2 linked regions of the Homo sapiens genome follow. The protein of the gene in region 2 purifies or fractionates together with the protein of the main gene of each other region. This does not show direct contact. Each region holds a gene or a part of one and is shown on either strand. Other genes may lie near its edges.

Evidence for each region. The genes of interacting proteins can lie anywhere in the genome.
Region 1: the proteins of RBPMS2 (region 2) and PTH2R purify together in Homo sapiens (co-immunoprecipitation; one large-scale study listed by IntAct). This does not show direct contact.

What each region holds. Positions count from the first base shown.
Region 1 is NC_000002.12:208,448,292-208,451,791, reverse strand, and holds part of PTH2R (parathyroid hormone 2 receptor isoform 1 precursor), read right to left. Parts: intron 1,044-3,500; coding exon 983-1,043; intron 1-982. UniProt on the Homo sapiens protein: This is a specific receptor for parathyroid hormone. The activity of this receptor is mediated by G proteins which activate adenylyl cyclase. PTH2R may be responsible for PTH effects in a number of physiological systems.
Region 2 is NC_000015.10:64,769,090-64,772,589, reverse strand, and holds part of RBPMS2 (RNA-binding protein with multiple splicing 2), read left to right. Parts: intron 1-3,500.

The sequences.
Region 1 (3,500 bases), on a different chromosome or scaffold from region 2:
ACTTTAAAATGACACATTAAATTAGCTCCATGCTACCTGGAAGAACTTAATGACTCACAGTTAGAGATAAATTCCACTTCTAATATGTGTTTATTATTTTAAAATATTTAATTCTGCTATAGAAGATATGGTAACAAATGGGATGCATGAAACCCACAGTTTGCATTAAATATAGATAAGGATGAGTTAGTAGACCACACGTGTGTTAAACCCAGGTACTAAAGACACATGAGGCAACTGAGCTCTAAACATTCATAATATACTAAATATACAAGAGCCATGAACAATCCCTGATACAAAGGAAGTTCTTAATATTTTTGAGGGCATTATCAGCCTCAAAAATATTTTGATTTTGAGGATTCATGGATTGATGGAACTCCTTCCCACATGTCCTTTTCCCAAGGGCCACAAATAAAACCCAGAACTTCTCTGCAGGCTAATTCAGAAGCTACAAATGTAGCCAGTGTACTTGCCTCTCCATCTCTATGAGGAAGTATGTGTCACTGGCCCAGGGCACCAGATTCTGTCTGTAGTTCCCCTTCGTGCTACCTTATCGCAGGTCCTCATAACCACACCATCCTCAGGAAAAGTTGATGTGGCAGAGAGAGAGAGAGAGAGTATGAACACTGCCTATCCTAGGAATCAGGTAGTGTAGTTCTTCAACCTGCTTTCACTAAATCCTAAGTGGATTCTCTTACCCATCTCTTTCCACTTGCTTCTCACATTATATTTTACATTTGTTTCTTAATCTATGGAGGTCAGGCACCTTCATCTAGTCTGCGAGTGTTTCTGCTCTATGACCTCTGGAATAGACAGCTTGCTGGTAATGTGTTGGAAGCTACCATCGCATCAAGGTAATTTTCCTTGTGGCATCCCTAAAAAGCAATGGCATCAAGAACAGAAGCGAGTGTGAATTCTGAGCAGGAAGCCTGAGTCTTGAGAACATCTGAGGTTCTCTCGTTTCCCCTGCCTTTTCACTCACCTCGCATCAGCCAGAGTTGCTCGTGCCACAGCCCATGCTGCAACAAATGCTGCTGGAAACCCTGAAATCAGAAAATGATTCAGAGACTAGATTTATTTTAAGATTAAGGAGGTTTTTTCCTCAAATTCACCATATATAAGAATATACTATTAGCTGTTCAGAGATAAAAATAGACATGAAAATTTCTGATATGTGAACAAGAAAAGTCCACTTAATTTTTAATCATGTCAGTTTGAGAAATTAGCAAGAATATTGATGTTATTTGTTCCTCTAGTCTGAAGATAAAAACTGGCCTAATTTTCATCTGAGGGGTGTAGGGAAAAGCCATATTTGGAGAAGAGTGAAGTTCCTAGGGTTGGAAGTAAGCAATGGTTGGCATTTGACTTTGACTCTTGTCACGCTGACCATCATATGCTCTCAAGGAGTGAAGCAACACAGGGACTCCTGAAAAGCTGAGGGATGCTGTTGTTTTAAAAACTTAGAATTTTTTCATCCTAAAAATGGAAGGCATACTGAGGCAAGTTATAAAAATCAGGAAGTTTTAACCAGTTTAGTCTCTTCTTTTAGTTCACGTTGGCACAAGACAGAAGCATTTTCATGCATTAATAGAAAAGGGTGACCACTATATTTGTCTGATGATTTGAGCGCGAGATATTTGTCCTTCATAAGTGCTAAACACCTTCTGGGCTTGTAACATCAAATCCATTATACCGACTTTCGTTTGCCCCCCAGTAAAAGTTCACTGTCCAGCTCATGTTGTATTTGATTAAACTCTGACATCACACACAAAAAAATCATGAACCATAACTTATATGGAATACTGCAGTAGGGGACTGAAAGACTTAAGAGATGACTTTTCATTATGTGGCCTTTATGAAAGTGGTTTAAATAAAGGATATACAGAAACCATAAGGAAAACATTTTAGAATCTAGGAAGCACCTTACAAAAGGGGAAAACAAAATTTTGGTCTAGCCAAGAACATTTTTTATCAAGCATAACTTTAAATTCTTAACCTTTAAAAAAATTGTAATTTTTTTATATTCTTTCTTAGCAACAAAGTGAACAAAGAAATAGGCTTAGAAAAAGAAAATTTTCAGAAAAAGATGAAAATGATGATATGCACAATAATGTCTTTGGTCTCCTTAGTGACCATCTAACTTAAGTTCAGCCTGCCTATATCACTACTGAATTTTATGATTCTATATTCCAATTTTATTTCTTGTTTCTATAGTATTCTTTCTTTAATCTGCTCAAATTCTGTGTTCTAGGAATTTTTTGTCAAAATAGACCTACCTAATTCTGGTTATTTCTTAGGTTCAGTTTGCATATTCTATCTATCTATCTATCTATCTATTTATCTATCTATCTATCACATTTCTCCATTAATCATTTATTGTCTATTTATGTGTCAAAGATTGTTCTAAATGATATAAATAATGAACAAATAAACAATATCCCTGTTTTCTAAAACTTATATTCTGGTGAAGCAGTCAAAATTAACAAAGCAACTTCAGTTGCTTTTGGTTATGAATTGGTGCTATGAAGAATAAATAAAAGTGATACTATGTAATGGGGAGGGGACAGCTGCTTCTGGTAGGATGATTAGATATAAATCCACCATACAGTCTGGCATAGATTCTACCACATGGCCTGACATAGATCCCTCAGCTGTTCTATCTTGGTTGTCTTCAAAAAGTGTCTGCCTGTCTTTCATCAATTTTCACATCTTATCATTCTTATATCTGCATCTTCTGCTTCCTTTACATTCTTCTGATCAGGTACTTCCTGAATGCTGTTCTATACAGTATTTATTAATGGTGGTTGAGTTGGCATTATGTTTTAGATGATAATTATGTCAAATATCGTACACAGGCATTATGTCTTCATAGAATTGCTTTTCTCACCTTCTTAGAGAATCTTATGCATAAGACTAGCATAGAGACTACCATGGAAGAATGAAGAACAGAAAACTACTTTGGGATCCTTTAAGGATTTTTTATCACGAGTCTTAATATGAATTGTTACATAATTTAGAACACAGAAATAAAGGCAAAAATACTTGACATGTAAATGTTGTTTTAAATTTAAATGTTAAATTAAGTAAATTTAATATAAATTTAAATGTTATCTAGTATGTGCATTTACTGAAAGTTGAGTTATTTTCTTTTTTTTTTTGAGACGGATTCTTGCTCTGTCACCCAGGCTGGAGTGCAGTGGCATGATCCCGGCTCACTGCAAGCTCCGCCTCCCGGGTTCACACCATACTCTTGCCTCAGCCTCCCCAGCAGCTGGGACTGCAGGCGCACGCTGCCACGCCCGGCTAGTAGAGACGGGGTTTCACCATGTTAGCCAGGATTGTCTCGATCTCCTGACCTCATGATCCGCCCACCTCAGCCTCCCAAAGTGGAGTTATTTTCATAAGACACGTCAATACAAAATAAATAAGTTTTGTGAAGACAAAACTTTAAATTAACTTTAAAATAACTACAAATTAAAAATGTTGAATATGATACATAT
Region 2 (3,500 bases):
ACTACCTGGAGTTTGCTATATTGCAGCAATATCAGGCAGTGCAGCCATAATGAGAGTTTGGAATTAGGGCAGTAATGACTGTGGTATTACGGGAAAATTGGCATTTTTCTGCCACTTGGGAAGATGTGTTCGAAGCTTTGATACCCTTTGAAAGCTAAGGAGGGCAGTAAGGAATTAAGGGGAGGAGCTGAATGTCCCTCCCAATCTAGAGGTTGTGCTGTCCTGCAGGTAAGTCTTGACTGGAGCTGGGGACGACATGAGGTAATACAGTACATGAACCTGTCCGGGGCAGGCTGTATCAGTGCTGCCAAACTTCAGACCTAAATGTCCTGTCTTAGTGATTCTCAAGGGATAACTGGGTAATTACCATGTCTCTGAAGAGGGGTAAATGTGATTTCTATTTTGAAAGTGGAGACCTTGCTTTCATAATACAGTTGCTGTTGGCCTTCCATTTCTATGGGTTCCCTATCCATGAATCCAGTTGTAGATAAAAAATACAATAATAAAAAATAATACAAATAAATATAACAACTATTTACATAGCATTCACATTGTATTAGGTATTGTGAATAATCTAGAGATGAGTTAAAGTATCCAGAAAATGTGCATAGGTTATTTTTTTATTTGTTTGAAGGGGAGTTTCACTCTTGTCACCCAGGCTGGAGTGCAGTGGCACAATCTCAGCTCACTGCAACCTCTGCCTCCCAGGTTCAAGCAATTCTCCTGCCTCAGCCTCCTGAGTAGCTGGGATTACAGGTGCCCGCCACCATACCTGGCTAATTTTTGTTTTTTAGTAGAGACAGGATTTCACCATGTTGGCCAGGCTGGTCTTGAACTCCTGTCCTCAGGTGACCTGCCCACCTCAGTCTCCCAAAGTGCTGGGATTACAGGCCTGAGCCACGGCGCCCAGCCTTGTTTTGTTTTTGAGACAGTCTCTGTTGCCCAGATTGGGGTGCAGTGGCGCAATCTCGGCTCACTGCAACCTCCTCCCAGGTTCAAGTGATTCTCCTGCCTCAGCCTCCAGGATTGCAGGTGCACGCCACCATGCCTGGCTAATTTTTGTATTTTTAGTAGAGACGGGGTTTCACCATGTTGGCCAGGCTGGTCTTGAACTCCTGACCTCAAGTGGTCCATCCAGCTCGGCCTCCCAAAGTGCTGAGATTACAGACGTGAGCCACCGTGCCCGGCCTGTGCATAGGTTATATACAAATTTTATATAAGAGACTTGAACATCTGGAGATGTTGATATCCAAGGGGGAACCCTGGAACCAATCCGCCTCAGATATCGAGGGACAACTAAACGGTACGAGGTGATACTAAGTTATAGTAATTTTTAAAAACCACTTTTTTGAGGTATGATTGGCATATATAAAGGTGTATATTTAGTGTATACAACTTGAAGAGTTTGGAGATTGTTAAAGTAATTTTTAACTGGGGGGCACCCCTGGAAGGGGGAGAGTGGTATTTATACTATTGGGTTGAGGGAGGATATAAGTTTCTTAAGAGTTAAAAAAGTTTTTGCCAGCTTAATGGTAAGCTATAGAAAGGCAGGGGTTAATGGCAGCTAAGGGGGCTACAGTTTGACCTGAGGGGCTTTGCCCTTCCCTGCCCTTCCACCTCATCCCAGTGTGGCTGGGACAGGGCTGCTGCTTGCAGGCCTGGTATCCTAGAGCCCATCATGTGTCCTCAGAGGGGTGTCAGGAAGCAGCCAGAGCCCTGGGACCACTGGGTGGCTTGAGGTCAGCCCTCCCTGAGATGTGGGTGAACAGGTGCTTAGACTTGTGTGGATGGAACGGGGAGGGGGGTGTGGGAGGTGGGGGATAAGGCACTCTAGATGAGTGCGAGGTAATTCCTGGATCCAGTGTGCTATTTGGGCACCTCCCTTTTCTTTAACATCAATAGCATTTGAAAGCATCTGGGACATCTTGGTCTGCAGGCTTTTTTTGAATATGAGGGAATGGAGGCTTCTCTGTTTCTGGGCACTCACCTAGAAGCCCTGCCAGGCATATAGCAGTAGGAGGTCAGGTTCCCCTCCTCACTGGGAGTTATTGTGGATGTGTCCCCTCTGCCTAAGTAATCTAAGGGAGAGGCTGTACTAATAATAATGAACCTGTATGTTGTATTTATGCCAGGCATTGTTATATGTTCTGCACCATTTTAACTCTTAATCTTTGTAAGAGCATTATGAAGTACTTACATTATTATCACCATTTCATAAATGAGGAAAGTGAGGCACAGAGAGGTTAAATAACTTTCATGTAGCTATTAAGTGGGGAGGTTGGGATTTGAACCCAGAGTTTGCTCTTAACCACACAGTATACTGCTATTGTGTTTTATATTAGGGTTTTTGGTGAGACTGGAAGGCAGGGGGAGAAAGGTATCTGCAATTTTCTTTTTTTTTTCTTTTTTTTGAGACGGAGTCTCGCCATGTCACCCAGGCTGGAATGCAGTGGTATGATCTTGGCTCACTGCAACCTCTGCCTCCCAGGTTCAAGCGATTATCCTGCCTCAGCCTCCCAAGTAGCTGGGATTACAGGCGCGCACCACTACGGCCAGCTAATTTTTATATTTTTAGCAGAGACGGGGTTTCACTGTGTTGGTCAGGCTGGTCTCGAACTCTTGACCTCCTGATCCTCCTGCCTCGGCCTCCCAAAGTGCTGGGATTACAGGCGTGAGCCACCGCGCCCAGCCGGGTATCTGCAATTAAAGTTTCTAATGGCTGAGTTTTGGGTGATGCCAACCAGAAGCCCAGAGGCTGACTCCGGACTAGTTTCCTTTGGGCTGGTGGCATCCCAAGATGGGTGATGGGAGCTGTCAGCCCCTGCCAGGAGGGGCCTTTTATCACAGATATGATTTAGAGTTGCCATTGCACGAAGATAATAAACAAACCAAGCCAGTTTTATTTTATTTTTATTTATTTATTTATTTTTGAGATGGAGTCTCGCTCTGTCGCCCAGGCTGAAGTGCAGTGGCGCGATCTCAGCTCACTGCAAGCTCTGCCTCCTGGGTTCACGCCATTCTCCTGCCTCAGCCTCCAGAGTAGCTGGGACTACAGGCGCCCGCTGCTACGCCCGGCTAATTTTTTGTATTTTTTAGTAGAGATGGGGTTTCACCGTGTTAGCCAGGATGGATTTTATTTTTTAAATTCTTTTTTTTTTTTTTTTTGAGACGGAGTTTCGCTCTTGTTGCCCAGGCTGGAGTGCAATGGCGCGATCTCGGCTCACCGCAACCTCCACCTCCTGGGTTCAAGCAATTCTTCTGCCTCAGCCTCCCAAGTAGGGGGATTATAGGCATGTGCTACCACGCCCAGCTAATTCTGTATTTTTAGTAGAGATGGGGTTTCTCCATGTTGGGAGGCCTCGGCCTCCCAAAGTGCTGGGATTGCAGATGTGAGCCACTGCACCTGACCTAAATTCTTTTTTAAAAAATCTATATCCTTACACATCTTGCATATTTTTAAAATTCTTTTTTTTTTTTTTTTTTTTTTTTGAGACGAAGTC